7 linked regions of the Homo sapiens genome follow. The protein of the gene in region 4 interacts with the protein of the main gene of each other region in a pairwise test. Each region holds a gene or a part of one and is shown on either strand. Other genes may lie near its edges.

Evidence for each region.
Region 1: the proteins of GNAO1 (region 4) and DLST interact in binary tests that used the Homo sapiens proteins (3 or more experiments, as listed by UniProt).
Region 2: the proteins of GNAO1 (region 4) and RPS6KA3 interact in binary tests that used the Homo sapiens proteins (3 or more experiments, as listed by UniProt).
Region 3: the proteins of GNAO1 (region 4) and ABCD3 interact in binary tests that used the Homo sapiens proteins (3 or more experiments, as listed by UniProt).
Region 5: the proteins of GNAO1 (region 4) and GABBR1 come close enough for resonance energy transfer, tested with the Homo sapiens proteins (one study listed by BioGRID).
Region 6: the proteins of GNAO1 (region 4) and SYNGAP1 interact in binary tests that used the Homo sapiens proteins (3 or more experiments, as listed by UniProt).
Region 7: the proteins of GNAO1 (region 4) and CBX5 interact in binary tests that used the Homo sapiens proteins (3 or more experiments, as listed by UniProt).

What each region holds. Positions count from the first base shown.
Region 1 is NC_000014.9:74,898,329-74,901,946, reverse strand, and holds part of DLST (dihydrolipoyllysine-residue succinyltransferase component of 2-oxoglutarate dehydrogenase complex, mitochondrial isoform 1 precursor), read right to left. Parts: intron 3,579-3,618; coding exon 3,448-3,578; intron 2,025-3,447; coding exon 1,951-2,024; intron 1,659-1,950; coding exon 1,575-1,658; intron 882-1,574; coding exon 714-881; intron 1-713. UniProt on the Homo sapiens protein: Dihydrolipoamide succinyltransferase (E2) component of the 2-oxoglutarate dehydrogenase complex. The 2-oxoglutarate dehydrogenase complex catalyzes the overall conversion of 2-oxoglutarate to succinyl-CoA and CO(2).
Region 2 is NC_000023.11:20,155,410-20,159,863, reverse strand, and holds part of RPS6KA3 (ribosomal protein S6 kinase alpha-3), read left to right. Parts: intron 1-3,614; coding exon 3,615-3,755; intron 3,756-4,343; coding exon 4,344-4,454. UniProt on the Homo sapiens protein: Serine/threonine-protein kinase that acts downstream of ERK (MAPK1/ERK2 and MAPK3/ERK1) signaling and mediates mitogenic and stress-induced activation of the transcription factors CREB1, ETV1/ER81 and NR4A1/NUR77, regulates translation through RPS6 and EIF4B phosphorylation, and mediates cellular proliferation, survival, and differentiation by modulating mTOR signaling and repressing pro-apoptotic function of BAD and DAPK1.
Region 3 is NC_000001.11:94,511,736-94,516,076, forward strand, and holds part of ABCD3 (ATP-binding cassette sub-family D member 3), read left to right. Parts: intron 1-3,410; coding exon 3,411-3,467; intron 3,468-4,341. UniProt on the Homo sapiens protein: Broad substrate specificity ATP-dependent transporter of the ATP-binding cassette (ABC) family that catalyzes the transport of long-chain fatty acids (LCFA)-CoA, dicarboxylic acids-CoA, long-branched-chain fatty acids-CoA and bile acids from the cytosol to the peroxisome lumen for beta-oxydation.
Region 4 is NC_000016.10:56,330,989-56,334,488, forward strand, and holds part of GNAO1 (guanine nucleotide-binding protein G(o) subunit alpha), read left to right. Parts: intron 1-3,500. UniProt on the Homo sapiens protein: Guanine nucleotide-binding proteins (G proteins) function as transducers downstream of G protein-coupled receptors (GPCRs) in numerous signaling cascades.
Region 5 is NC_000006.12:29,608,680-29,613,133, forward strand, and holds part of GABBR1 (gamma-aminobutyric acid type B receptor subunit 1 isoform a precursor), read right to left. Parts: intron 3,936-4,454; coding exon 3,872-3,935; intron 2,323-3,871; coding exon 2,245-2,322; intron 701-2,244; coding exon 550-700; intron 55-549; coding exon 1-54.
Region 6 is NC_000006.12:33,436,111-33,440,564, reverse strand, and holds part of SYNGAP1 (ras/Rap GTPase-activating protein SynGAP), read right to left. Parts: intron 3,203-4,454; exon of another isoform or gene 3,084-3,202; intron 2,898-3,083; coding exon 2,274-2,897; intron 2,235-2,273; exon of another isoform or gene 2,147-2,234; coding exon 2,002-2,146; intron 1,791-2,001; coding exon 1,646-1,790; intron 1-1,645. UniProt on the Homo sapiens protein: Major constituent of the PSD essential for postsynaptic signaling. Inhibitory regulator of the Ras-cAMP pathway.
Region 7 is NC_000012.12:54,248,612-54,253,065, reverse strand, and holds part of CBX5 (chromobox protein homolog 5), read left to right. Parts: intron 1-838; coding exon 839-1,025; intron 1,026-4,454. UniProt on the Homo sapiens protein: Component of heterochromatin that recognizes and binds histone H3 tails methylated at 'Lys-9' (H3K9me), leading to epigenetic repression. In contrast, it is excluded from chromatin when 'Tyr-41' of histone H3 is phosphorylated (H3Y41ph).

The sequences.
Region 1 (3,618 bases), on a different chromosome or scaffold from region 4:
CCCTCTAACGCATCTGCTGCCTACAAGGAAAGTTTTCCCTTCAGTTCTGGCTGCCTGTACTTGCTTCTCTCTGGGGTTAGAATTTAAAAAAAAAAAAAAAAATTAAGCCAGGGTCTACAAATTCTGGAATTGTATGTGTAGCTGGGTGTATGGGCATTTTCCAGGAAGATCTACAGACTGTGGTTTCACACAGGAGTCAGTAACCCAAAAGGATTCTAAACACAGGAGTTCCCAGAAAGCTTTTTTGATACCAACGTATCTTCTAAGGGCCAGCTCAAGCCCCTTTTAATACTTAATTCTCTGAACTCCCGGGAAATTTACAAGCTTTATCATACAACTTGGCAGCTCACAGACTGACATGCATAATTGTCATCTGTTTCCCAGGGGCAAGGGACCACGTTTCCAACTATATCCCCCACTCCATAGAAGCAAACAAGCCTCCTCAGCTCAGTGGTTCTCAAACTTGAATATGCATCAGGATCATCTGCACTTCTTCTTTAAGTCTGGGATGGGGTCTAAGAATATGCATTTCTAATAAGGTCCCAGATGATGCTGATCCAGACCACAATTTGATAATCAGTGCCTTAGCTATTAGAAACTAAGAAATGGAACTTAGGCCTGAAATTATAGTTAATGTTTTACAATTAGCATTTAGTTGGATTTCCCTTTCATCGAGACCTAGCCACTAGGACCTTAGAAGTGACGGTTCCTACCTTGCCTCCTATAGCCACTGGCCTGTCAAAGATGCCATGCATCCCCAGGATGGCAGACTGAGGGGGGTTGATAATGGGTGTTCCAAAGAGCGAGCCAAAAACGCCTCCATTGCTAATGGTGAAGGTACCGCCATCCATATCTTCAATGGCAAGTTCATTCTTTCGGGCCTAAAAACAGATTTCATAATTGAAATATCAAGCCAACCCAGTTTCCTTCACCTAAAGTCAGTCCATAATCCCAGCGCTTTGGGAGGCCGAGGCAGGAGGACTGCTTGAGGCCAGGAGTTCAAGGCCAACCTGGGCAACATAGTGAGACCCCCATCTGTATAAAAAACTTAAGAATTAGCCAGGCATGGTGGTGCACACCTGTAGTCCCAGCTACTTGGGAGGCTGAGGCAGGAGAATCGCTTGAGCCCAGGAGTGCAAGGCTGCAGTAAGCTATGACTCTACCACTCTACTCCAGCCTGGGCAACACAGCGAGACCCTGCCTCTAAAAACAAAAAAGCAAAGGAAGTCCAGAAAGCTTGTATCGAGATCGATGGCACAAGCGCTAGCTTCCGTGTGACAGTTGTTCGGCTAAGGTGTCTATGACCAGTGCTCCACCAGAGAAAAGGCACAATTTCATACAGTTGAAGACTTCAAAGATGATCTTTTCTAGCAGGTCTCATCTGATGAGATTTCAGTTACCAGAGCATGGTAAACTCCACCAGATATATAAAATACTTAGCTCTCATGGGCAACTGCTTTTCTCAGGGGCTATGCACTTGACTTTCCATGAGCACTGCTTGCTAGTGAGCCCAGCCTTCTGAAGGCTCTCTTCCCTCGCCTGCTTAGCAGCTTGTATACATCTTTCTACTTTACCTTCTCTCCCAGTTCAGTGATGGTCCGTTCAATATCTGCAAAATTCATAGCTTCCACATTCCTGATGACTGGAACCACCAGACCCTGAAGGGGGTGAAAAGCTGTTTTCAGTTGCAAATTAATAGTACCTTTTATAGTTAACAACTCCCTTGATTCAACCCATGGTATGCCCTCCCTAGAATACCTTCATTACTCAGTGTGATTAACAGAAAGTGTTAAAAGAATGCGGCATGGTTTAAAAGAAAAAAAAGGTTACTTTTACTAACTCCCTTCTAAAAATACAGAATTAAAGAAATGATTTCTCTTGTGTGATCTCCTTCACACAGATAAGGTGAGGGTCTAAGACCAACATTCCCCACCTCCTGCCCCAACATACCCGTGGGGTGGCCACTGCAACACTGATGTCAATATAATCCCTATACACCACCTCTTTGGTTGTGTCGTCAATCACTATGAGAGAGAAAATACATGTTACATACAACTCCCCAGGAAGGCCAAGACTAATGAGGTAATATGTGCATTAACAGAGTAAAAATCTGCAGAGCTTGATACAGTGTGGGCTGACCAACCACCATGAACACCACTGCATTATGCATGGCAGCTGGCATTCCACTTACTCCCATCCCAAGTATAGTATCTCCCAAGTCCCTGACTGAGCCTGGGCATAGGAGCATCCATTTCTTTGGCAGCCCTAAGAAGGGCTCAACACACTGGCTTCCATAGGATAGGTATGCACTAAACTCTCGTTAAGTAGCTCTAGTCAAGCCCTCCTTTAGCAGAGAATGACTAGGGTTAACAAATGTTCCAAAAAAGGGCAAATTAGCAAAGGAAAAGGGATATAGAGATACTACCCATTCTCTGCTTCCAACTCTCAACAAGAGGAAGAGGGGAGATCCAAGAGTAAGCGGGGTGATCTGGCTTTGAAATATGCTACCTCAAGAGATGGCAAACCAGCATCTGAAAATGTACACCTAGCAACTAATGGGAAAATAAAGGCTTGGGAATCATTTCCGCAGAAAGTCCATGTTGTATTGTTAGATAAGACATCCAGAGGAAGCATGTAATGTGAAAAAGAGGCCACGAGAACTTTTGAGAGCCGCCTACATGTGTGGGCAAGCAGAAGGGGGCCACTGAAAAAGATGAGAGCCAGTCAGGGAGGCATGAGAAGAATGGGAAAAAGAAGAGGTATACATTTGGGCAAAACAAAGATGGCCTTCTACCTCCCTAGAGCACCACTCAACAGGAGGGACTAGGGCTTCTACTTCTAGACCTTTAGGGCCCCTGACACTGCTGAGGATGGCAAAAGTAGCACTGACCCCTCTCCAATCTCCCAAGGAACAGAGAAGTGTGTCAACAGGAAAACAAAGTGCTTGTTAGGTCAACACTACAATGACGTAGGTAAGTAAAAAGGAAAGAAAATAAGCACCAGGTCCATGAGAGGCCAAGCCGAAGCTCCCAGTGAGGCCCATCGACCTAAGATCAAAGGTCAGCCAGGAGCCTACACCAACTGTGGAAGTCAGGCCCCAAGGTAACAGGGCCTGTGGAGCTGGGGGAGGGGAGGAAGCCAGAACACGTGCTTCCACCTTGACAGGAGACAGCCTGGAGAGCTGGGCTATCCCAGAACTGCCTGCTGCCTGAGCAGCTGCCGAGCTGTACACTGGGAAGAGAAACTGTTCTGCCCAGCTGGCGGGTAGAAAGTAATCATGATGCTGCTTCAGGAAGGTGAACCAAGAAATCCCTGGGGAAGATACTGATATTTCTATAGGTAGCAAATAAAAAGCCTTGGTCTGTTGATCCTCTGCATGTGGGAGCAGGTCTGTGCTCATACACCTACCTCCCAGGACCTCTCCAATTCCAGCCACAAGCAACTCACCTGCATTTACAACAGGCTGTTCCTGCAAGGCAAAGGCTGAGGCCTTCACAAATGCCGACATGAAGCCTAGTTTGAGGTTATGTTTCTTCAAAAAAGCCTCTTTGTGCCGAGCCCTCATCTCCTGGATGTTACTGTGAAAATATTACAAAACAAACTGACCACAAAGCCTGC
Region 2 (4,454 bases), on a different chromosome or scaffold from region 4:
CACATATTAAGGAGTGCAGTGATCAGATTTTCCTTTTTAAAGTGCATTCTGTGGAGCAGTAATTCTTAGCTATGGAGTCCACCACAAACTTTGTCATGATAGGTTGTGAGGTATATTAAGTATATGTTACCAATAATAAAATATCAGGGCTTACACATTAATTGATTTTTTAATAAGTTAAAGCAAGTTGAGGTTATCACTGTGATTTTCTTCATTCACTTACATCCTGGTATGCTTTTTTGGTGAGAGAGGAAGGGCAGGTAAGAATGGAGACACAGAGCATAAAAAATTACATCCAACTCACAGCCTATCTTATAGATTCCATGTTATCACTAGTAACTGTTGCTAATATGTACAGTTAAGACTTGTGATTACAAGCATGATATAATTCCATGATTAGCCACAAGATAGAAGGGAGGGCTCTATCAATCTGGGTGTATCCCCTCAAGAGCAAGTTGCATATGTGAATGTTGTCAGTCATGTGGGCCATATGTGGCTTTCAGAGCAAGAAGACTAGAGCTGGCATTTACTGAGCATTTATGTACCAAGGACTGTGCTAACACTTTTACCTATGTTGTTTCATTTAGTCCTCACTGACCTAATATTAGGGACAGTACTTGTAAGGTTTTGCAATATTTCAGGTCATGAATGATGAGGACCTATATTAGAGCAGTTGTGATGGAATTTGAGCCAAATGGAAGAGAAATTGAGGAGGCATAATAGACTTGATGGTTTATTATACATAAGAAATGAGAGAAAAGCAGTTATAATGTATGTAGTCCCCATTTCTACCTTGGGCAGATGGATGAGGGGTGGTATCCTTCACTGATTTGTAGAATACAAAAGAAGTAGTTTTGAGAGGAGTGGTGGTTGCAGATTTGGACATTATAAATTAAGAGATGTATGTCCATCAGGCAACTGTCTATATGGTTATAGGTCTTAAAAGAGAAGTCTGGGGTGACACTTAAGAGTTGTCATCATCCATAGTAGCTAAAGCCATGAATTTGAATGAGATTATCTGAGCAGAGTGTAAGAGAGCCAAGGAAAGAATTCTGGAGAGCACCACTTAAAGAGAAAGCTTAGGGGAGGAGTAGCCATTAAAGGGGCTGTAGTAAGAGAAGTAGTTTGAAGTGAGTTCACCAAAAGCTCATTAACGTATAGATTTGATTAAAATTATAATTGAGTTTTGTTGTACCCCTGGACAGTTTTGCAACCTTTTATGCAATTTTAAGCACTTTTGCCTACTTTCAGAATTGCAAAAGGGAGGTTCCTAATTTTTTTTATTTTTATTTCCAGCTCTGTTCAATTGCGTATCCCTGTTCTTAGCTGTTAATAACTAAAAGTAAGAAACCATAAATGTCTCATAGCAGAGGAGTACCTGGAACAACATCACGCTAATTCCCAAGATCTAGTTAACCACCAGATTCTGTCAGTTCTTTATCCTAAATACCTCCATTTCTCTCTCTCTCTCTCTCTTTTTTTTTTTTTTTTTTTTTTTGAGATAGAGTCTTAGTGTGTTGCCCAGGCTAGAGTTGCAGTGGTACAATCACAGCTCACTGCAACCTCCAACTTCTGGACTCTAGCTATCCTCCCACCTCAGCCTCCTGAACAGCCGGGACTACAGGCATGCACCACCACTCCCAGCTAATTTTTAAATTTTTTGTAGAGATGGAGTCCCACTACGTTGCCCAGGCTGGTCTCGAACTCCTGGGGTCAAGTGAGCCTCCCACTTTGGCCTCCCAAATTTCTCCCACGCCCAGCCCAATTTTCTCCATTACATACACCTCCCTGAAGCTGTCATCTTTCACCAGTCCATTTTCCTCCACACTCAGTGAATGTGATCTTTTTACTTAACCGCATCACTCCCTAACTTTAAACACTTTATTACCATCAAATAAGTCCACGTTTGCAAATATGGCTTACAGGGACTTTCCTGATCTGGTCCCTTCTCATCTCTCCCACTTTATCCACTGCCACATTCTCCTTCACGGTAAATTTATGCTGTAGCCGCATTGTACTGCTGCCAGTTCCTTAACTGTGTCGTCTTCTCTCCCACCTAAGAGCGTTCCTCCAAACTCACTCTCCATTCTCTCTACTCTACCTGAGGCAGTGTTTCCCCCTTCCTTTCTCTAATCTAGCTCCTGCTTATCCTACAGGTCTTATCTTCCTCTTAAAAAGTCCCTTTTAAGCCACCTCACACAGTACAGTCAGGTATCTCTGTGTCCCTCCAGCTGCACCTGGTGTTTGTTCATCCTGTCAAAGAACTTACTTGCTTTGTGATTATTGATTCTTTATCTCTCCTTCACTGAACTGAAAACTTCATGAAGTCAGAGTTCATTTTGTCTTTTTTTTTTTTTTTTTTGAGACAGGGTCTCGCTCTGTTGCCCAGACTAGAGTACAGTGGTTCAATCACGGCTCACTGCAGCCTTGACTTCCTGGGCTCAAATGATCTCTGCCTCAGCCTCCCAAATAGCTGGGACCTCAGGCATATGCCACCACACTCAGCTTTAAAAAAAAAAAAAATTGTAGATACAGGACCTCACAATGTTGCCTAGACTTCATTTCTGTGTTGTTCATTGCTAACTACCCAGTGCCTAGCAGAATGCCTGGCCTTTACTGGATACTTAACAAATGTATTTTGAATGAAAAATTTAAAAAATGGTGGCTTTTATAAATGACAGTGGTGTTATTTTGAAGAGTGTAAAACCATGTAGTGATTATATGCATCTACATTGCATGCATAGGAATGGCATTTAGATAGATATGCAGTGCTAACAGTGACTGTCTCTGGAAGAGTGGGATTATGGAACTGTTCCTCATGTGCTTTCACATTCCAGTATTTTCTGATTATTCTCTAATGCCCATGGGTTGCTTTTGAAGTAGGAAAAAAAATACTATAGTCTTTTCAGGGGGCATTTAGAGCCCTCCAATTAAATTCCTGTTATTGGACATTCATGTTTTTTTTTTTCAGTATTACCAGCAGCACAAAAAAAGTCTTAAGTAACTGAATATTACTTAAAAATAAACTGGCCAAGCACAGTGGTTCACATCTGTAATCCTAGCACCTTGAGAGGCTGAAGCGGGAGTAACACTTGCATCCAGGAGGTGGAGACCAGCCTGGGCAACATGATGAAACCCCATCTCTACTAAAAACATAAAAGTTAGCCAGGCATGGTGGCGCACACCTGTAGTCCCAGCTCTTTGGGAGGCTGAGGTGGGAGGATCACTTGAGGCCAGGAGACAGAGGTTGCAGTGAGCCAAGATCATGCCACTGCACTCCAGCCTGGGCGACAGAATGAGACCCTGTTTCAATAAATAAATAAACCTACAAAAATGTAGGAAACTCAGAAAATCTGAAGGAAAAAAGAGCCAGAGTACTTAAAGATATATAAAATGTGCTAAATTGACCCCTTGTGATGCACCAAATTACAGTTATTTAGCAGGGAAAAAGCGGAGACTGATTTTTTTTCCCCCAAATTACCATGTTGACCAAAGGGCTGCTACCAGAAAAAGCAGTATCACAGAAGCTAAGGAAGAATGTTCATTAGTATCAAGAGCCATAGAAAAAGAAGCAAAACAAAAGGTTTAAGCTTGTTTTATTATTCCCATTACAGGACCTGGTGTCAAAGATGCTTCATGTAGACCCTCATCAGAGACTGACTGCTGCTCTTGTGCTCAGACATCCTTGGATCGTCCACTGGGACCAACTGCCACAATACCAACTAAACAGACAGGATGCACCACATCTAGTAAAGGTGAGCAGCCCCATACAGTCACTGTTTTCCACAGGTCCTCCAGGAGAGACTTCAAGAAGCCCTGTCCATGCCCCCAGCACCTTTCTCTTTCATCCTGCATCCAGTTCTGTTGTGGGATTCTCTTACAGTGGGTGACTTCGAAAAGCTCAAGGCATATCAATATATTAGTAATAAAACTAGTTTAAGAGCGACTTTTGAATTCCTCTCAGTCTACATGAGTAGGTATTCACTATCAATAAGGACAGATTAAGCTTATGGATTTCCCAACTTAAAGAGCATGCCTTCCTGTCTCTTTAGTGCCTTTATGCATTAAAGGAATGCAAAGGGAAAAAATGTTGAATAGTCCTGAGAAAAGTGAGGACTGCCTGTTATGAGCCTATCTTTGTTCTCTCTCATACATAATTTTAACCTCCATGTTGGCCTCTACAGTTTTGGTTAAGTCAGTGGATTTGACCAGTGTGGTTATTTTCATTATGAACCAAATAAAATCTATGTACATTTGCATATGAAAAAACTCTTCATTTTGTATTTGTGTACGTGTGACTATCCATTGTCACTTTTGTTACTACCTTTATTTCCTTTGTTCAGGGTGCCATGGCAGCTACATATTCTGCTTTGAACCGTAATCAGTCACCAGTTTTGGAACCAGTAGGCCGCTCTACTCTTGCTCAGCGGAGAGGTATTAAAAAAATCACCTCA
Region 3 (4,341 bases), on a different chromosome or scaffold from region 4:
TTCACTTCATCTTCCATCACTGATACCCTTTCTTCCAGTTGATCACATCGGCTCCTGAGGCTTCTGCATTCTTCACATAGTTCTTGAGCCTTGGTTTTCAGCTCCATCAGCTCCTTTAAGCACTTCCCTGTATTGGTTATTCTAGTTATACATTCTTCTAAACTTTTTTCAAAGTTTTCAGCTTCTTTGCCTTTGGTTTGAATTTCCTCCCGTAGCTCGGAGTAATTTGATCGTCTGAAGCCTTCTTCTCTCAGCTCGTCAAAGTCATTCTCCGTCCAGCTTTGTTCCGTTGCTGGTGAGGAACTGCGTTCCTTTGGAGGAGGAGAGGCGCTCTGCTTTTTAGAGTTTCCAGTTTTTCTGCTCTGTTTTTTCCCCATCTTTGTGGTTTTATCTACTTTTGGTCTTTGGTGACCGTGATGTACAGATGGGTTTTTGGTGTGGATGTCCTTTCTGTTTGTTAGTTTTCCTTCTGACAGACAGGACCCTCACTACTGATTTCTTCTCTTCTTTCCTCCCTTTTTCCTTTTTTTCCTTCCTAAATGATATAGAAATTTTAGGTAGTCATGTAAAAGATATCTCATTGATATATAAATGAGATATAAAAGATACCTCATTTATGTAAAACAACATATTTAAATCTCTTTATAATTCTCTTTATATATGGGAAATATATTTAAATATGTTGTTTTATATAAATGAGATATAAAAGATAAAAGATATAAAAGATACCTCATTTATATAAAACAACGTATTTAAATCTATTTCACTTTACCTCATTACTTAGAGTTAATAAACTGACCTTTTCTTAATTTTTCCATTAACTTTATCTAAACATTAGAGTTTTTTTATGAATAAAACTCAACAATAATTATTTGGCAATTTTTAATTTATCCGTTTTATTTTCTAGCCTGAGCAATATTTTACCAAAGCTGCTTTTAGTAGCTAAGTCTGAGGCTATCTTTATTGGTTCCATTCTTTAAGTAATTATTCAATAGTATCAGTTTTCTTTCTTTGAGAAATTGTTACCAACATCTATACTATGGTTAAATTTTGGAACAAATGTAGTATATCCTAGCTGTTTTATAGTTTCTATATAAGTAAATGAGGTAGATGAGGATTTTTAACATTTTGTATGTGTTCTTTGGGAGTTCTCAATAAATAAAAAAGGTCATATTGAGTATATATATTATGAATTCCTACTATTCCAAGTGTGTTCATGATCAGCAGCAGCAGTGTCACCTAGGGGTTTGTTAGAAATGCAGAATTTCAAGCCCTGCTAAATCAGAATCTGCATTTTACCAAAATTCTAAGATGATTCAAATGCGCATTAAAGTTTGAGAAGCACTGGCGTGATGATGAAAGAATTTGCTATTCTTTGTAGAAAGATTTTAACTACTGATTTTATCTTGTTAATGATTTATTTTCTATTCTTGAATTTGCTTTGGTAATATATAATTATACATTTGTTCATGTTGGTTTTCAAATATATAGGTATTAGAGATGTTTATGGTATTCTCATGTACATAAAACCATGTAGTCTGCAGTTGATTCAATGACATAGCAGCTCTTTGCTGGTAATTTTGACCACGTGATTTCCTCTTATGCTCTAGCTATAGGCTTGAAGTCCCCACATAAGACTGTATAAATTCTATAAAACATCAGTTCCATTTAAAAGAAAATTCATATGGGGCCTCATTGATAATTTAAATTACTGTGATACCACTTAAACATGTATAAACATGATGAGGTGTGAATTCCTTAAGCTTAGAGCTCTTTTACAGCTACAAAACTAATATAAACTTACACATTAAATACATTAAATACAGACAAAACTTAAATACAGTTTCAAATTTACAACATTAAAGAGACCTATGATACCGTTTAGATGAAACTAAACCAGTGGTTTGGGATTTAATTAAGGAAAGATAGAATCTGAGGTTCAAATTTCATTATTTTGCATTTTGCTTTTTATTTTGACTTATATACTTCATATATTTTTTATATCCTCATGTAAAGAATGTGTGCATTAAGTAGATGTCTAATCCAATTATTGTAGTATCATAAACAGAGAAATAATATCTTAAATGAGCTCTGAAAAATCAGAAAAGTGTGGTATGGTTGAAATATATGTTTTATTAATACTGATAATATGCTTATTTTATTATGCAATTCCTAACCAATTTAAGAACCTTTTTACAGTGCAGCCAAACTTATTACACATTAGAAGTTTTATTTTATATCACTTTGGCAATCAGAGGTGTAGATACAAACCGAGGAACTTGAATCTCATGGTAAAAATGATCTAGAATATACTTATAATGATCTTTTAAAAATTATCATCAAAATGAAAATAAAATTAAGAAACCATGGTGGAAATTTCCCAGATGCCCTAAGCATGCATTTGCCAGCCTTGAGTGATCCACTTGGAGGAACAGTGACCCAGAGTGGGGTTTCTCAGTCCTGGCACTATTGACCTTTTCACTGTTAATTCCTAGTTGGGCAGGGTTGAGGGTTGCTGTGCACTGGAGGATGTTTAGAAAGCATCCCTGGCCTCTGCCCATTAGATGGCAGTAGTGCTTTCAGTTGTGAAAATAAAAATGCCTCCAGTCATTGCCAAATGTCCCCCTGAGGGACAAATATCACTGACCTCCCCACCTTGGTTGAGAACCACTGATCTAGAGCAACTACAGCTATTATCTATTAATGTTTTTTTTTTTTTGAAAATCTGAAGTACAGATCTATAAATACGTATTCACAATCTGAAATCCAGAAAGTGCTTAAATTTAAAACATTTTTCATAATTTTGTAGCAAGCTCACTGGGTAAAACTTCGCCTAAGCTAACAAAAGATATTTAAACTCTATATGTCTCAATATCAGTGTCCATGTGTGTTGCTACAGAAACATTTATGTGTTTAATTATAAAATTCTGCCTCAGAACTCTCTGGGGGTGTTAAATAATACATTTTCAAAATCTGAATTCCAAGACACATTCCAAAACAGTAGTTTACGGTAGGGGATTATGACCCTGTATTTGAAAAGCAAGTTGACTGTCAACAATGCTATACTGATTTAATTTTTCCTGATTTTGACCTTTGGCTATTTTTATCCTTCTCATATTCCTCTCATATATTTTTCACAATAAAATAGGAGACATGATAGGAGATATGTTTTTTGCCCAAAAGAAAATAATACACTTAATGCCAGTACCTGGTAGTTTTTATTATGTGGTTGATGGCCAGTACTTTCCATTGCTATAAACATTTTGCATCCAGTTGTAAATTTTTTCTCATTGACATTGCTTTTTAACTTTAGTCACTGAAGACTGTCCTCTTAACAGCTTAAAGTACATGGACTAGTTTAATTTGTGACTCTGTTACTCATTAAACCTAAATCATTTTCTTTGTATTAGGTTGGCATCACTCTCTTCACTGTGTCTCATAGGAAATCTCTTTGGAAACATCATGAGGTTTGTATTTCTTTCATTGAATGGTACAGTGAAATTTTATTTTCTTTAAAATATGAATTCAGGTTAATATGGTTTTAGATTTTATGGTTTGTATTCCCTTAAACATATGTCTTAAGGAGAAAAGGTGGTTTTGTTTTATAAAATAGGATTTTCTTAAATATTATAGTTGTCAGTTTTGAAAGCAATGGTGTAACAGTTTTTCTCCAGTTTTATAAGTGACTCTTATCTGTTAATAGTAACTGACTAAACTTTGCATAGTCTTATCACAAATATGGTGAAGTAAACTTTTCTTATCCAGCAGTGACAGAGGAGAAAAAGTCTTAAGAAGAATTAGATGGCAAAAAATTTAGGGACATTTTTAATAGAGGTCAGGACTACAAGGGGGAAGATTGAATAACATAAGCTATGTTTATCAATGTACTGTAGTAAGTAGGATTCATTAGATAGTCACTATAATTTACAAAGATATTCAAATGAGGCTTACATTGGTGCACGTGTATTACTTATTCTGGTGCTTCAGTAGTGCCATTCTCACTATGTCAGTTCTTTTCAACTCAATGTGAAATGCTCAAAACCTGAAAGTAAACCCAGTTTAATTCTCTTTATTTTCTTTCCTCCTCCCTCCCTCCCTCCCTTCCTTTCTTCCTTCCTTTCTTTTCTTCTTTCCTTTCTGTCTTTCCCCCTTCCCTCTTTCCTTTCTTCTCTTCTTTCCTTCTTTTCCTTCCTAAATGATATAGAAATTTTAGGTAAAAGCAAGGATTTGAGAAAAATTGGAATAATGGTAAAGGTGCCTTGTTCCACAAAATACATACCTGATTAAGGACCTTTTTTTGCCAGATACTGAGCTAAGTGTCATGAGGGATGCAAATTAATT
Region 4 (3,500 bases):
ACATTTCCTGTCTTAGCAGTTAGACCTCAGCTTCTGACAAAGTCTTGGGCCCAGTATAGAAAGCAGATCAGAGTAGGTTTGTTGTGCTGGAAAGGAGAGGGAGGACTCACAGGGCTGCCACAGCACGTGCTTCCAGGGGGTGCCATTGACACCCTAATGCCCCAACCACCAAAGCACTTCTCTGCCCAGCCCTTTACAGGGGAGGGACCAGGGCACAGGCTCCTGAGCAGGCTCTTGGTGCACCCCGGCCTCTGTGAACAGGGCTGGCTCTCCCTTCTGGATAACTACCTAGAGGCAGGTCCCAGAAACCCTGGGCACATCCAACCAGGGGCTGTGAAAGGTGCTCTGGGGCCTGGTTGGCATTGGCTTTCCTCAAATCCAGTTCCCCACTGAGTTGTCCATGCTGGCGTCCGACGTTTCCTCTCCTCACCTTCTCTCTTGACCCCACTCCTATCGAGCTCTTGCTCCTCCGCCTGCTGAGATGGCTCATAGCCCAGTCCTATCCTGGGGGCTGCTCCATCAGCCTCCTCCCACTCAGGGTTCAGGGTTCAGTCCCCTAGTACCTGGTACCTCCTTTCACTCCCAGCCCCCGCCTCCTCTCGGGCCGCCCTTTCCAGACTCCCTCGATGCCTCCTGCCCACCCACCCAGGCAACTGGTGATGGGGGAGGTCTGCTGGGGGCTGCTGTATCCCGTCCCCAAGCTCCATCCCAGAAGCACCTCCTCTCAAGGCCTGGTGCCTGGTGACCTTCTCCTGTCTCGTTTTAAACACCTTGTACACTTGGACAACTCTCAAATTCATATCGCCAGCCCAGCCCTCCCTCCTGACTTCTGCCTACTCAGTGCCTGTTTGGACATCAAATGAGTCTCAAGTTAACATGAGCCCGTGGAACCCCTGGCTCCCATCCTCCCACTAGAAGCTGCTCTGTGTGCTCCTCCCTCCCTCTAAATGTGTCTCATTCCACCACGTGGAGGTATCTCTACTTCTGCTCGTCCTCCTGTATCCCACACCGAGGCCACCAGCAGATGCAGCTCCCCTGGCAGGTACATCAGATTCTGACCACTCACACCCTCCACAGCCACCCCCACTGTGCCAGTGCCATCTGGTGACGACAGCAGCTCTGCAGGCCCCACCCGCTGACCTGCTCTCATGGCAGCAACAGGGCCGTTGTCAACATGCTTCTGGCCAGAACCCTCGAGGGGCTCCCATCTCACTCAGAGCAAAAGCTCAAGCCCTGACAATGACCTCAAGGGCCTGCTTGCCCCAGCCGGACTCTGGCCACCCTCACCTCCACCACCTTCCCCAGCCTCACCCACCACCTGGCCCCTCCACGTGTGCTTCCTGCCGCCATGCCTGCCAGTGTTTCCACTGGGCCACTCGAGGCCCACTTGCTCCCTCATTCCCCTCAGTCTCCCCTATCCAGACGCCTTCCCCAACCACCCTGCATCAAATAGCAGCCCCCAGCAGCTCTCCCCCATCACTAATAGCCTGATTCGTTCTCTCACACTACCTCCTGACATATCATCTCTCTGACTCTTCTGTTTACCACCTCACACACGTGTGCACACTCACTTGGAACACAGGCCCTGGGAAGGTGGGGCTGTGTCGACTGCCCCATCCCCAGCTCCTGGAACAGTGGCTAGGTGGGATGGACAGCAGGTGCACAGTCAGCCTTCCCGACTGGGTTGTTAAGCAGTTCTCCCACACCTTGCCCACCCTCCACAGCCGTCTCCTTGCATGAGGCTCGGCCAGCACAGAGAGGCCAGAGGGCCAGGTTGCCCATCTAAAGGAGGTTTGCCCTGGCTGGGAAAGGAAGAGCAGGACCAAACGCTTCCAGGCTGGTGTCCAGCTGCAGATGACAGCAGAGGGCGTCCTCACAGCTTGGAAGCAGAGGTCATGGGCGCCAGGGCGGGGCAGGCACAGAGGCTTGGGAGAGGCTCCTTCTGGCTGAGACCAGAGCCTGCCCAGATGCCACTGGCTGGCGAGGAGGCTGTGAGGCCGGGGGCGTGTACAGGTCTGCTCTGCAGCCTCGGCTCTCTCACCCCATCCCCACACCGTTCCTGTCCACGGAGGGCAGTCAGGCTCAGGAGAGGAGGCCAGGAGTCCTGTTTAAATTTTTTTTCTGGATTTTTAAAATGCTGATGATGTCCAGTTTAAGAGCGTGGGGTCTGGAGCCAGTCAGAACTGGGCTGGAATCCCAGCCAAGTGCATTTTCTTTTTTTCTTTTTTTTTTTTTTCTCCCCGAGACAGAGTCTTGCTCTGTCACCCAGGCTGGAGTACAGTGGCACGATCTCAACTCACTGCAACCTCCGCCTCCTGGGTTGAAGCGATTCTCCTGCCTCAGCCTCCTGAGTGCTGGGATTATAGGCACCTGCCACCAGGCCCAGCTAATTTTTGCATTTTTAGTAGAGATGGGGTTTCACCATGTTGGCCAGGATGGTCTCAAAATCCTGACCTCATGATCCGCCCACCTTGGCCTCCCAAAGTGCTGGGATTACAGGCGTGAGCCACCGCACCCGGCTGCCAAGTTCATTTTCTCGCAGTGTGACTTCAAGCTTACCTCCCTGAGCCTTGGAAGCCACCCTTCTGTTTTCTTTTCTTAGGGGCATTCTCACAAGGATTGTCACTGGGTTCTATCAGTGAACACCCTAGCTGGCGAAGTCATCTGCCCTTTCCAGCCCTGTGGACATCCATGAGCTGGTCAGCATGCCCATCTCTCATGCAGTGGTAACTGCAGGTCCAGCCAGCAAGCTGGCCCCCAGCAGGTCCTGGAGCAGATGCAGCCTGGGACCCCACATCGTTCTGTGGTTCAGACACTTGGGGCTCCTCCCTGTGGGCTGCTTGTGGTTTGCCCCGGCAGCAGGGATGGGTGGCCTGGCAGGCTCCATGGATCACTGAGTCTTCCTTCAGGCCTGGCCCAGCTCCCCACTTCCTGATTTCCCAGATCCTACCCTGGCTTTAGGTTCAAACTTAACCCACAATGAACCCCAAAGCCCTTGCAGGCAGCGTCCTCTGAGTGCTTGGCCTGAGGCCTGGGCAGGTGACTTGCAAAAGCCTGGTCTGTCCCCACAGCAGGAGGTAGCAGGGGTAAAGAGCCCTGATTCCAAAGACCGGGTCCCAGGGAGGCCCAGCCGCTGTATGGCTGTGCAGCCCTGAGCCTCCAAGAGCATCAAATTGGAAGGGGCACACAGACCCCTTGGTAAGTGAGAAGGAAGTGTGGAGAAGGCAGGGAACTGCTCAGGGGCCGCTGAAGCCCCAGACAGTAATAAAATTATGGCCTCTGGAGCCAAGGGTCCGGGTCACAGCCTCAGGCAAGGTACTTACCTTCGATGAGCCCCAGTTTTAGTACATTTAACTCAGGGAAATTACACATGAAACATGGTTACACATGCAAAGAATAGAACCTATCTGTTGGCCATTATTATCTTTTAAATGAAAAAATGACAAAACAGTATTATAATAAACATGGTAGTCTCATATAAAAGCTTGATCTTGTCTGAG
Region 5 (4,454 bases), on a different chromosome or scaffold from region 4:
GAGCAGCCCACAGCAGTCAGGTTGTTCAGGTTGGGCTGTGAGTTCTGGATATAACTAGGGCAGAGGTGGAGAGGGTGAGAGGGAGAGAGAATTACCCCTCTTCTCCAGGGAGGCTGAGCTCTCCAAATACCACGCAATGGCATGACCCTAATTTCAGGGCCAGGGGCTAAAGGAAGACAGGATTGGAGAAGACAGTGGAGCCTTGAGAGGCAGAGCAATGCAGTCATGGGGCTGAAGATGGAGTTGCAGAGGGCTTCCCAAGCACAGGCCCCCACTAGAATACAGGCTATTTATGTAGAGTCCAAGACTGTGAGACCTGGCCCCAAAGGTTGTTTTTTTCTCTTCTTTTCTTTTTTCCTCCCGTTAGCTACTTTGGAGTAGGAGTGGGGGTTATATCTGGTTTCCCTGTTTTCATTCTCAACAAGTCAGAATGAAAAACTCCATGATACATGGCCATGGGAGTTACACAGGTTTTATTCTCATCCTGTCCAGGAACATGATCAGTATCTCAGAGAGGCAGACAAGGAAAACGTCAGAAGAGAAACTTACCGGACATGTGAGTTGTAGATGTTAAAGGACAGACAGACAACAGCTAGGACAATGCCCAGGCTGGAGAGAACTGAGACGGAGATAAAGAGTTTCTGTGACAGGAAGCGGAATGTCTTGATGACCAGGGTCTGGTCAGCTGGGGGGGACCCTCCTGCATGGCACAGGGGAGGAAGAGGGGAAGGGAAAAGAGAAGGGAAGGAGGACAAAGGAATGAAGACGGGATAGGAGAAAAGGGCAAAGAACTAGATTGCTGATGGACATTCAGTCATTGGCTGGGGACATGAGGCCCTAACTGCACTGGACAGAGGTTACTGCAGGCAGAATGCTCAGTGCCACTGGGGCCGTTAGGAAGCAACCAGAAATGAGATGAGAAGATGGAGTGAATGGTCTATCCATAGGTTGGGAAATGCTGAGGCATGTCCCCAAAGTTGTAGTCTTTGTTTTTGTTTGTTCTTTAAGTTTTTCTGTCTTTCTTACAGCAAAGGAAAATGGGAGGAGAAAGAAGGGGATCATTAAAAAATGTTATAAGGTTTCTTATAACCCAAATCAAAGTTTTAAATGACAATTATGGAATCATAAAGCTAAAAAGGCCTTGAAGTATCTAGTGTGGACACCTATTCTTAAGACAAACAAAAAAAGAAGGAAAGCTAATCTGAAATTTTAATCCTGGCAGGGTAATATTCCCAAATATGTTTTCCAGTTATTATTAGGGGGAAGTTCAAATTTGTCAGAGTTCACCAAAAAAAACTAATTTCAATTTGCTTAGTTTTTTTTTTAAAGAATAATTTAGGCCATGCAGCATTTATAGCAATCCAGAACATTGTCCTAAATTCGAATTGTAAAAAAAAAAAAAAAAGGGCAAAACTCCAGCAGTGCTGGGAATGACTGGATATCTGCTGGGCAGGGCAGACGGCAGCCATCTTCAATGGTTGAGCCTCCCCTTCATTCTCAAGGAGGCTTTCTTTTATCAGTAGGTCCTTCCTTTTGTCCACCTTCAGTTTCTCTCCTATGTCCTATCATTTAGACCAAGTACACAAAGAATAACTGCTTGCTTTCTCTCTTTAAAAAGTATATTTTGAGGGATGTAATACTACCTATTAGGTACAAGGTGCACTGTTCGGGTGACAGGCACACTAAACGCCCGGACTTCACCACTATGCAATATATTCATGTAACACAACTGCACGTCTACCTCTAAATTACATAAAAATAGGAAAATTTTTAAAAATACATATAAAAATAAAAAGCACATTTTGGCAGATGACAATTACATGAGGTTTTCCCTCCTCCTCCATAGTTTAAGCAACCGTTTTCCTGACAGAGACAGACAAAGAGACAGCTCTGGGCTTGAAGTAGCTGGTTCAAATATATCAAGACACCAGGACATCTGGGAAACCCAAATGGAGTTTCCATTTCCCGCCCTCTGCCCACCCCCTGCCTCTAATCCCCAGTTACCCCAGCAATGCACCATTAAAAATAGTACTAACCACCGCCTATTCCCTCTCCAAATACACCAGTCTCCCCTACCCACGCCTTAGGGGTTGTATTCACTCTCACTTAACCCTTTCTCCTGGCCCAGCTGCCAGCCACATTCCAACCTAACAGTCTCTACCATTCCATCCTCACTCAAAGGCATGACTTTTTCCCTTGACTGTCGAGAGGGGCTGAAGGAAAATACAAACAAGATCCACTCACCAATCCATTTATCTGTTTTGGACCAGGAAAGATCATCCTTGGTGCTGTCATAGTAGCCAATCTTCTTGTAGCTGCCACCTGGGCAGACGACAATAAAAGGAGTGACCACAGGTAGCCAAAGAGCTGATCCTAGGCATTTTCAACTTCCCACTTCCCTAGAGCTTTGCATGGTTGTATCTGATTTTATTTTCACCTGAGGCCCTAAGGATGCTTGGAAGGACCTACGAGACTCTTGAATCAGCAACATGACTTAAAAGCAATATAAGGTGGTTCCCAAGACAACTCAAATAAATAAGAATATCTATGTTTAAAAGTCTTCAGTGAGGAGGCTCCACAACATGTCTGCCACCTATTCCATTCCTCACACCTCTCTCGGCGAGATGTCTCTCACTTTGATTTTGGCTTCTAAAGCTTTACACATATTTCTGCTTATTCTTCCTCTCATGATGGGCAGGCTCTATTTTCCCAGTGGCTTTCATTTTAATTTTAGAACATTCTCTTCTGTTGGCTTGGGTTTTAATTCCTTGGATAAGTTATATCTGCCTCTTAAAGCGCCATTGAGTAAAATTTGGTCATTTCTAAGATTTCTGTTCTAGAACTGTTTCCGTTACCATAACTTTTCCTTCAAAAGCCAACTCACACTCCTTTCACCATGGCTGAAGTCCATTTCCTCTTGTCCTGGATACAAAGAGGAGCTGAAAGGATGTGGAGGTGGGGAGAAAGGAAGAAAGAAACTTTTCACAGGAGGCCAAGAAATAGCTCTCTTGGCCATGCCGTAAAAGACTGAGAGCCGAGTGGAGCAGAAAAATTAACTCCTAGAAGTTCTGCAAATACCTGTGTGCTAAGTTTCAAGAAAATACAATCTACAAAAGCCAAGCTATACACATTGAAGCTTTACACAGCAAGGAAATTTGGCAGATTCCCTTAAAAAAAAAATAGCGGTTCTCCTAGATTCAGCTTTCTTGAGTCTAACTGACAGGTCATCAACCTCTCAACCCAAGCCACTCAAGGGGAAATTCCTGAAATTAATGGAAGCCACTGGGAAAGAGAGTAGCTGTTTTTAATTTGCATGTCTCTTTTCTTTTCTTTTTTCTTTGAGACAGAGTCTTACTCTATCACCCAGGCTGGAGTGCAGTGGCGTGATCTCAGCTCACTGCAACCTCTGCCTCCTGGGTTCAAGTGATTCTCCTGCCTCAGCCTCCCAAGTAGCTGGGACTACAGGCACCTGCCACCACACCCAGCTAATTTTTTTTTTTTTTTTTGTATTTTTGGTAGAGACAGGTTTCACCATGTTGGTCTGGCTGGTCTCAAACTCCTGACCATGATCATGATCTGCCTGCCTTGGCCTCCCAAAAGTGCTGGGATTACAGGGGTGAGCCACCACACCCAGCCTGCACACCTCTTTTCAAGAGCAAAACCAGTGCAACTCAAAGACATCAATCTTCTTGTAGTTAAGCTTATTATTATTATTATTTACAAGCTTGATGAACAGAGTTAAAAGAGAAGGGCAGAAGTTGGGAGGTGCCAGGGCAATCTTGTGATGTCTCTGGCATTCTTCCCCAGGGGGCATCCCAGCCCAGCCCCAGCCTAGCCCCCATGTCCGGTCCCCTCCTGCCCCTGTACTAACCCTGAAGCTGCTCGATAAGCGTCCATGCCATCCGAGAGCCGCTGGCATCAAACACCACATGGCCCTGAGGGAAGGAACATGTGGAGCAAGGCAAAGGAGACAAAAGCAAGAGTGAAAGAGAACATCAGGGACTCTTTAAATCCTTCTGTTTTTGATGTAATTGAGCCTCTGAATGAATGCTATTTATGGCATTTGCCTGCATATAGGACATACCCCAGATGCCCATACCCTAGATTTTAGAAACATTATTCTTTGGAGAAGGAGCTTCACTTATGAGATTTGAATGGGAAAAAATCCCCAGACAGAACACCAGCAGGCTTCTGGTTGTGTGGCCTAAGCAAGTCAGCAAATCTCTCTGGAAACTAATCTTTTCATTTTAAAAGGAATAAGAAGATGACCTTTCAGACTGTTTTGTCTTTCAAAATCCTATAGTTCTCATCTGACTCATGAATACTTGGTCTAGTTTGAAAAGAAATGAGGGGAGGGGTTTAAAAAAATGGAATACATCATTTTTTTTCCTCTAGTCTTTGATGGGTTCTTCTAATTTGAAGGTCCCTACTTCTCTGGTCGGAGACTGATTCTG
Region 6 (4,454 bases), on a different chromosome or scaffold from region 4:
CAAGATGGGAGGCTGCTTGAAGAAGGGGGCCATGGCAGAGGGAACAGACAGATTAGGGAGAGAGAAATGGAGGGGGAGAGAAGGTGAGGGGAGAGACACGTGGGAGAGAGATGGAGGGGTGTGGGAGAGAGACAAGGAGAGGAGGAGAAGAAAAACAGACACCAGGGAGAGACAGAGATGGGAGAGAGATGGAGGGTCACTTGAGGTACAGGGAGCTCGGACCCCCCAACTCTTCTGGATTCCAGGGAAATGGGGATGGAGGTGCCCCAGGCATGATCCCCAGTCCCTGGAATGGCTCAGAGCTCACTCCCCGCACCTCCCAGTTCCACTTCAATGTCCCACTGACACCTTAAACTCGGCTGGTGTAAAGCAGAGCTCACCATCGCCCCCACACCTCCAACTGGCTCCTCCTCCTGACTTTCCTGGTTGTCAATGAGGCCACCGGTCTCCCAACCACCAGCCTCATGGCCTCTTGAGTCATCCGTGACTCCCCACAGACATGCTCCCTCCTTTCCAATAAGCTGACAATTCCTACTGATCCTTTCCCGAGAGGGTCCTTCCAGTAGCTCCTTCCTAACTTCTGTCACTGTTCTGATTCAGGATCTGACTTTCATGCCTCCGAGCCCCCAGCTGGCTCTATTCCAGTCATCCCCCAACATACATCCCTCTACTCTACTACATACACTCTACTTATGGATTAATTTTTTTTTTTTGAGATGGAGTTTCACTCTTGTTGCCCAGGCTAGAGTGCAATCGTGTGATCTCGGCTCACTACAACCTCCACCTCCCAGATTCAAGTGATTCTCCTGCCTTAGCCTCCCGAATAGCTGGGATTACAGGCATGTGCCACCACATCTGGCTAATTTTGTATTTTTAGTAGAGACAGGGTTTCTCCATGTTGGTCAGCCTGGTCTCAAACTCCTGACCTCAGGTGGTCTGCCCGCCTCAGCCTCCCAAAGTGCTGGTATTACAGGTGTGAGCCACCGTGCCCAGCCTATGGATTAATCTTCTAAATCACAATATTTCTGACACCTTTAATGGCATCCCAAGGCCTACCAATGACCTCAGACTCCTTGAGGCCTTCCAGTTTCTAAAGCTAATCTTCCTGCCCAGACATCTCTCCCGCCACTCCCCATTATGAGGCACATGCTCCACTAAACCTGATGTAATTGCTACTAACCTACTTTAATGTCCCCTGAAAACTCCTGGGCCTTTTCACCATCACACATGTGCCTTTCTCACAGCCTTCTTCTGAAATGTCTTTCTTGCCAACTATGTCCATATATCAGAACCTAAACCAGTCTTCAAAGCCTACCCAAGGGGGCACCTCTTCCCCACTTATCTCAAAGCTCTGCCTTCTCTCTGACCTTATGTCACACAGAGGTTGGGGGGACCCTTACTCAGCACTTACACACCATTATGGCTCTGTGGCTTTTTTTTTTTTTCTTCTAATTTGTCCCCATTCTGGTGGAGGCCCTCTGAGGGCAGGGACCAGGCCTCTTTCACCTGTTTGCTCTATAGCGCCTAGAACAATGCTTTGCCCATAAATGGTGCTCAGTCCTCTTTGAGGATGGACAGATAGATGAACAGATGAACACATAATTCCCCCGACCCTGGCCCCCCAGCCCAGCGTTCCCAGTCTCACCAGTGGGAGTTGACCACCTTGCACAGGGCCAACTCACAGCACATTCGCAGGTTGGCCTGGTGCTCTGCCAAACTGGATGCTGTGCACTTGATAGGGTCTACCTCGCAGTTTTCCTCAGATTCATACAGAGCACGGATGAATTCTCCTGGGGGGTGGGGGCACAAGAGGGTGTGGTCACACTTTCCAAGGGCAGGGAAGGGGGTGGCCAGGGTTGGGGAAATTTCAGAATCAGGTGTTGGAGGCTGGAGTCCTAGGACTCTGGGTTAGGAAGTATCAAGCTGTGGAAGGGTGGACTTGGGGTCTGGGGTGGACATCTGGCAGGTTTGGGAAGAAGAGGGCCTGAGTGTGGGCCATACCAATGGCATCCTTGAGGTATTTCTGACCAATCAGTCTCATATACTCTTCTATGGCTTTAGTGGCAAGCGTGTTCTCGCGGAATATGAGGTGCTCCCGTTCCATGAACCGGTCTACCTCAGACATGGCCATGTCTGAAAGGAAGTCCTGAGGCCCAGGAAAATCCAAGTGTCAGCCTCTGCACAACCCAATCTCGTGAATTTGCCCTGTCCTCACTAACCCCCAAGCAAGTGCCCATTCCCAAGTCACCTTTCCCTGAGGGCACAACACTCACCTTGGCCTTGCCTGTACTCTGCAGGATGTGAACTAGTGCACTGGCAACCTCCTCCTTGCCTTTGACATTCAGGGCGGGCTCCAAGACTGCACACAGCATCCGATAATGGTTGGTGACATACTCTGCAAACTCTTTATATAGCTCCATGGGCAAGATGCTCATTGTCTGGTAACGTGCTTTCAGCCGCACAGCCGGGCAACCTCCTTTGCCCTTGCCCCCTGAGCCACCCCCCGAGCCCCCTCCCCCTCCCGAACCCATGCCCCCAGATCCCCCACTGCCTGTTGGCAGGGTTACAGGGTACCACTGCTCTGTGAAGTGGCGCCCAGCCAGGGTGGCCACTGGCACAGTCACCAGGCCGACATAGCCTGCCTTGTCCTTCTTGCGCTTTTTGTCTGAGTCACGGTACAGATGCAGCCGCAGGGCACGGACAGCCGGCAGGTTGTTAAACTCGAAGTGCTCGCCCCAGAAGACGGTGTCCCCAGAGGCAGAGCGGGGCTTGGAGGTGGTGCGTGCATACAGCATGTCATCCAGGCAGAGCTCACAGTAGTACCGCTTCTTGGGGGGCAGCTCCCGGGCCTCTATGATCCACAGCTTTAGCACATTGTCTACCCGGCGGCTGTTGTCCTGGCATGGTGGGGTGGGCATGATGTTAAAGGGGGAAGGGACAGAGAGACACCAAAAGAGGAGAGACAGTAAGAAAGTGGGATACAGACAGCAATCATAAGGTGAGACGGTGTACTGGGTTGAATAGTATCCCACCAAAACTCATGTCTACCCTGAACCTGTGAATGTGATCTTATTTGGAAACAGGATCCCTGCAAATGTAATCAAACTAAGAAGAGGCCAGCCATGGTATCTCATTCCTGTAATCCCAGCACTTTGGGAGGCCGAGGTGGGTGGATTGCCTGAGGTCAGGAGTTCGAGCCAGCCTGGCCAACATAGTGAAACCCCGTCTCTAATAAAAATACAAAAACAAATTAGCTGGGCATAGTGGCACGTGCCTGTAATCCCAGCTACTCAGGAGGCTGAGGCAGGAGAATCACTTGAACCTGGAAGGCGGAGGTTGCAGTGAGCTGAGCTCATGCCATTGCACTCCAAGCCTGGGAAACAAGAGCGATATTCCATCTCAAAAAAAAGAGGCCATACTGAATTAGAGTGGACCCTTAACCCACCTTATAAAAACTGGTGTCTTTATATGGAGAGGGAGATTTGGAGACACAGAGATACAGGATACAGAGACACACAGAAGGAAGCCAGCTACATGAAGATGGAGGCAGAAATTAGACGGATGCAGTTATAAGCCCAGGAATGCCAAGGACTGCTGGCAACCTCCGGAAGCTAGGAAGAGGCAAGGAAGGATTCCCTGCTACAGCATCAAAGAGAGCGTGGCCCTGCTGATACCTTGCTTTTGGACTTCCAGCCTCCTGAACTGTGAGAGAATAAATTTCTGTTGTTTTACGTGACCCAGTTTGTAGCAGTTTGTTATAGCAGCCCCAGGAAGCTACTGTAGAAGCGTAGACATACACTAGACAACACAAACAGTATTGGAAAGATTTCAAAAGCTGGAATAACAAGCCAAAAATATTAATGTAGAATTTGAAGGGAACTGGAAAGTCCTGCAGAGACTATCAGAAATTGTGAAAAAAGAATTGCATATAGAATGGGTAAAGCTTGGCCAGATGTGGTGGCTCATGCCTGTAATCCTAGCACTTTGGGAGGCTGAGGCAGGCAGACAACCTGAGGTCAGGAGTTTGAGACTAGCCTGGCCAACATGGTGAAACCTCGTCTCTACTAAAAATACAAAAATTAGTCGGGTGTGGTGGTGCATGCCTGTAATCCCAGCTACTGGGGAGGCTGAGGCACAGGAATTGCTTAAACCCAGGAGGCGGAGGTTGCAGTGAGCCAAGATCACGCCACTGCACTCCAGCCTGGGTGACAGAGTGAGACTCTGTCTCAAAAAAAAAAAAAAAAGAATCAGTAAGGGCCTGGGGGGATACAATTGAGCACAAGCTAATGGTAAGGCTCAGGTGATATTGCAGTGTGTTGAAAGGGAACATGGTGTTTGTACTCTGCATAGGTCAGATCATGTCAGCATCTTGGGTTGAGTTCTTTAAGGACATCAAGACACAAGAGTTCCCCCCAGAGGAGTGTGACTAGGACTGTAAGCTTGCTAGAAACTGG
Region 7 (4,454 bases), on a different chromosome or scaffold from region 4:
TCTTGATTCCCATTTGTAGTTAATTACAACTCCCTCCCTCAGCCCCAGGCATTCACTGATCTGCTTTTTTTTTTTTTTTTTTTTTTGAGACAGAGTCTGGCTTTTTCGCCCAGGCAGGAGTGGCACAATCTCAGCTCACTGCAACCTCCCCTTCCCGGGCTCAAGCAATTCTCCTGCCTCAGCCTCCCGAGTAGCTGGGACTACAGATGTGTACCACCACACCAAGCTAATTTTTGTAATTTTAGTAGAGACACGGTTTCACTGTGTTGGCCAGGCTGGTCTCAAACTCCTGACCTCAAGTGATCTGCCTGCCTCGGCCTCCCAGAGTGCTGGGATTACAGGTGTGAGCCACCGTGCCCGGCTGATCTGCTTTCTGTCTCTATAAATTTGTCTTTCCCAGACATTTCATGTAAATGGAATTAGTATGTAGTATCTTGTGTCTTATTTCTTTCACTTAGTATAATGTTTTTGGGGTTCTTCCAAGTTGTAGCATGTTTTAATATTTTGCTTATTGTTGTTGGATAATATTCCTTTGTATGGATATACCACATTTTGTTTTTCCATGTCACCATCCATTGATGAACATTTGAATTTGTTTTCTGTTTTTGGCTATTAAAATGCTGCTGTAAACAATTGTAAATAAGTCTTTGTGTGGGCTTTTTTTTTTTTTTCATTTTTCCTGGGTAGAAATCTAGGATCAAATTTGTTATCTTCTTTAAAGCATAGGGTTTCTCTGTCCTTTTTGTCCGAATGTCCTCTTTGAAATAAGGCATTGGATTTTTTTCCTCATTCTTTACCCCCCCCTTTTTTTTTTAATTTTCCCATTTTTCTTACCCAGGGAGCACAATACTTGGGAACCTGAGAAAAACTTGGATTGCCCTGAGCTAATTTCTGAATTTATGAAAAAGTATAAGAAGATGAAGGAGGGTGAAAATAATAAACCCAGGGAGAAGTCAGAAAGTAACAAGAGGAAATCCAATTTCTCAAACAGTGCCGATGACATCAAATCTAAAAAAAAGAGAGAGGTAAGCTTCCTTTCCCTTTTCCCCAAAAACTATTCTTTTGCCACCAAAATAATAATAATAAATAAAAGTATCATATTTTGGTTATTTCTATTGTAAGGATGGACCTATAAGGTAAATTGTTGAACAAAAGAGCTTCCAGGGAGGTATGTTGATTACAGCTCCCTCTCCTGGCTAAGTGAGAAATGTAATTTGTGGCCACTGGATTGTATTAAGGGGGCAAAATTAAATCTTTGTAAAATGTTAAACCACTCCTCTGCCTTCTCCATAAGTAGAAGACTTAGTTATCTTAGAGAAGGAGGATCATTGGTGAATTTTTTAAGAATAGAAAGGGGCTTTGAAATGTTTTGTTTTGTTTTGAGACAGAGTCTTGCTCTGTTGCCCAGGCTGGAGTGCAGTGGCTGGATCTCAGCTCACTGCAATCTCCAACTCCCGGCTTTAAGCGATTCTCATGCCTCAGTAGTAGCTGGGATTATAGGCACATGCCACCACACCTGGCTGATTTTTTTTTTTTTTTTTTTTTTTTTGAGACAGAGTCTTGCTGTCACCCAGGCTGGAGTGCAGTGGCACTATCTTGGCTCACTGCAAGCTCTGCCTCCCGGGTTCACGCCATTCTCCTCCCTCAGCCTCCCGAGTAGCTGGGACTACAGGCGCCTGCCACCACGCCCAGCTAATTTTTTTGTATTTTTAGTAGAGACGGGGTTTTACCATGTTAGCCAGGATGGTCTTGATAATTTTTGTATTTTTAATAGAGACGGGGTTTCGCCATGTTGGTCAGGCTGGTCTTGAACTCCTGACCTCGTGATCCGCCTGCCTTGGCCTCCCAAAGTGTTGAGATTATAGACGTGAGCCACCATGCCCAGCCGGGGCTTTGAAATGTTTACCATTTCACTTCCTTTTTTCTTTTTTTTTGGAGACAGAATATCGCTCTGTCACCCAGGCTTGAGTGCAATAGTGCGATCTTGGCTCACTGGAACTTCCACCTCCTGTGTTCAAGCAGTTCTCCTGCCTCAGCCTCCCAAGTAGCTGGGATTACAGGCACACGCCACCATGCCCAGCTAATTTTTTGTATCTTTAGTAGAGACGGGGTTTCACCATGTTGGCCGGGCTGGTCTCAAACCCCTTACCTTGTGATCCATCCACCTTGGCCTCCCAAAGTGTTGGGATTACAGGCGTGAGCCACCGCGCCCGGCCCTTTCTTTTTTTTTTTTTTTTTTTTTTTTTTTTTTTTTGAGACGGAGTCTCGCTCTGTCGCACAGGCCGGACTGCGGACTGCAGTGGCGCAATCTCGGCTCACTGCAAGCTCTGCCTCCCGGGTTCACGCCATTCTCCTGCCTCAGCCTCCCGAGTAGCTGGGACTACAGGCGCCCGCCACCGCGCCCGGCTAATTTTTTGTATTTTTAGTAGAGACGGGGTTTCACCTTGTTAGCCAGGATGGTCTCGATCTCCTGACCTCATGATCCACCCGCCTCGGCCTCCCAAAGTGCTGGGATTACAGGCGTGAGCCACCGCGCCCGGCCCCGGCCCTTTCTTTTGTTCCAGTGATAGCATTTGTTTTCAATCCTTGATAATCTTTTTTTTGCAGTGAAAATCATATAATATACAATTAAATATTTTATTTATTTATTTATTTTGAGACAGAGTCTTGTTCTGTCACTCAGGCTGGAGTGCATGGGCGTGATCTCGGCTTACTGCACCCTCACCTCCTGGGTTCAAGTGATTCTCCTGTTTCAGCCTTCTGAGTAGTTGGGATTACAGGCATGTGCCACCATAGCCAGATAATTTTTGTATTTTTATTTTTATTTTTTATTTATTTTTTTGAGACGGAGTTTCACTCTTGTTGCCCAGGCTGGAGTTCAATGGCATGATCTTGGCTCACTGCACCCTCCATCTCCTGGGTTCAAGTGATTCTTCTGCCTCAGCCTTCCAGAGTAGTTGGGATTACAGACATGCACCACCATGCCCAGCTAATTTTGTATTTTTAGTAGAGAGGGTGTTTCTCCATGTTGGTCAGGGTGGTCTTGAACTCCCTAACTCAGGTGATCCACCTGCCTTGGCCTCCCAAAGTGTTGGGATTACAGGTGTGAGCCACCATGCCTGGCTCAATTAACAATTTTAAAATGTACAGTTCAGTGGCATTTATATTCTCTTGATCTATTATTTCTACATACTTGGCGTACAAAATTAATTTTTGTCTTTTGAATCTTCTTCAGTTTGGGAAGTGTATTTATGAAATTTTGGTTTGATTTAGTTGCTTTAATCCTTCTGATCTTTAGCTCTCAAGTAAGTAGCATAAGCACTGTTATTGCCTCTCTCTCTTTTCATCTGTGTGTGGGCGCATAAATACACACACTCTACCACCTCCTCCCGCCCCCAGCTTCCATTCCTTTTATTTATTTCAAGGTTATGAAGCCTTTTGTGGTGAAGGATGTATCATACACTTTACATTTCATAAAAGCGTAAGTCTACTTCGGAATCTTCCAGCCTTCCAGAGTAGCTGCCACAATCATCCCTATGTATCTTCATTCTAATTAGATTTATACCTTTCTAGAGCATTAGTTCTCAATGCTACACATTATAATCACCTGGGGGGTACGTTAAAAAAAAAAAAAAATCTCCAGTGCCTAAGATGCACCCCAGACCAGTAAAATTAGAATTTTTTTTTTTTCTTTTTTTTTTGAGACATAGTCTCACTCTGTTGCCCAGGCTGGAGTGCAGTGGCACAATCTCACTGCAACCTCTGCCTCCTGGGTTCAAGCGATTCTCCTGCTTCACCCTCCCTAGTAGCTGGGACTACAGGCACATGCCACCATGCCTGGCTAATTTTTTGTATTTTTAGTAGAGATGGGGTTTCACCGTGTTAGCCAGAATGGTCTCAATCTCCTGACCTCGTTATCCGCCCATCTTGGCCTCTCAAAGTGCTGTGATTACAGGCATGAGCCACCACACCTGGCCTCTGTCATTTTTAAAAAGGAGCAGTCTGAATAATCTGGCTTGGAGCCACTGGCCAGTGCACAGAGTTTTGTTCCTAGGCCAGGTTCTGAAGCTGCCGACCTTGAAAACAACCCCCACATGTCCCTTACATCATAATGTTCATCTGGGACCCCTGATAGCATTCTTAGCAGTACTGGCTGCTGTCAGGTAGACAGCTGGAAAGATAGGTGATTGTATGTTTTAAAGGTATAGGAGGGGATTGTGTTTATTTCTTAAGACCACTGGAGAAGAAATTTGTTAGTTTGCATTATGCCTGATTTAAGATTACTGCCTGTATGATGATTTTAGCATTTTCTTCGCCCTGGCTCCTTTTCAGCAGCTTGAACGTTTTTCTTCCATTCGCCTCCTCTTCCCTCCCTATGTAGCAAACTGTTTTCAGTTGCCAGTTATGATTTACAACTTAGTCCATGCACCAGCATTCCAGCTGTGAGCAGCTGT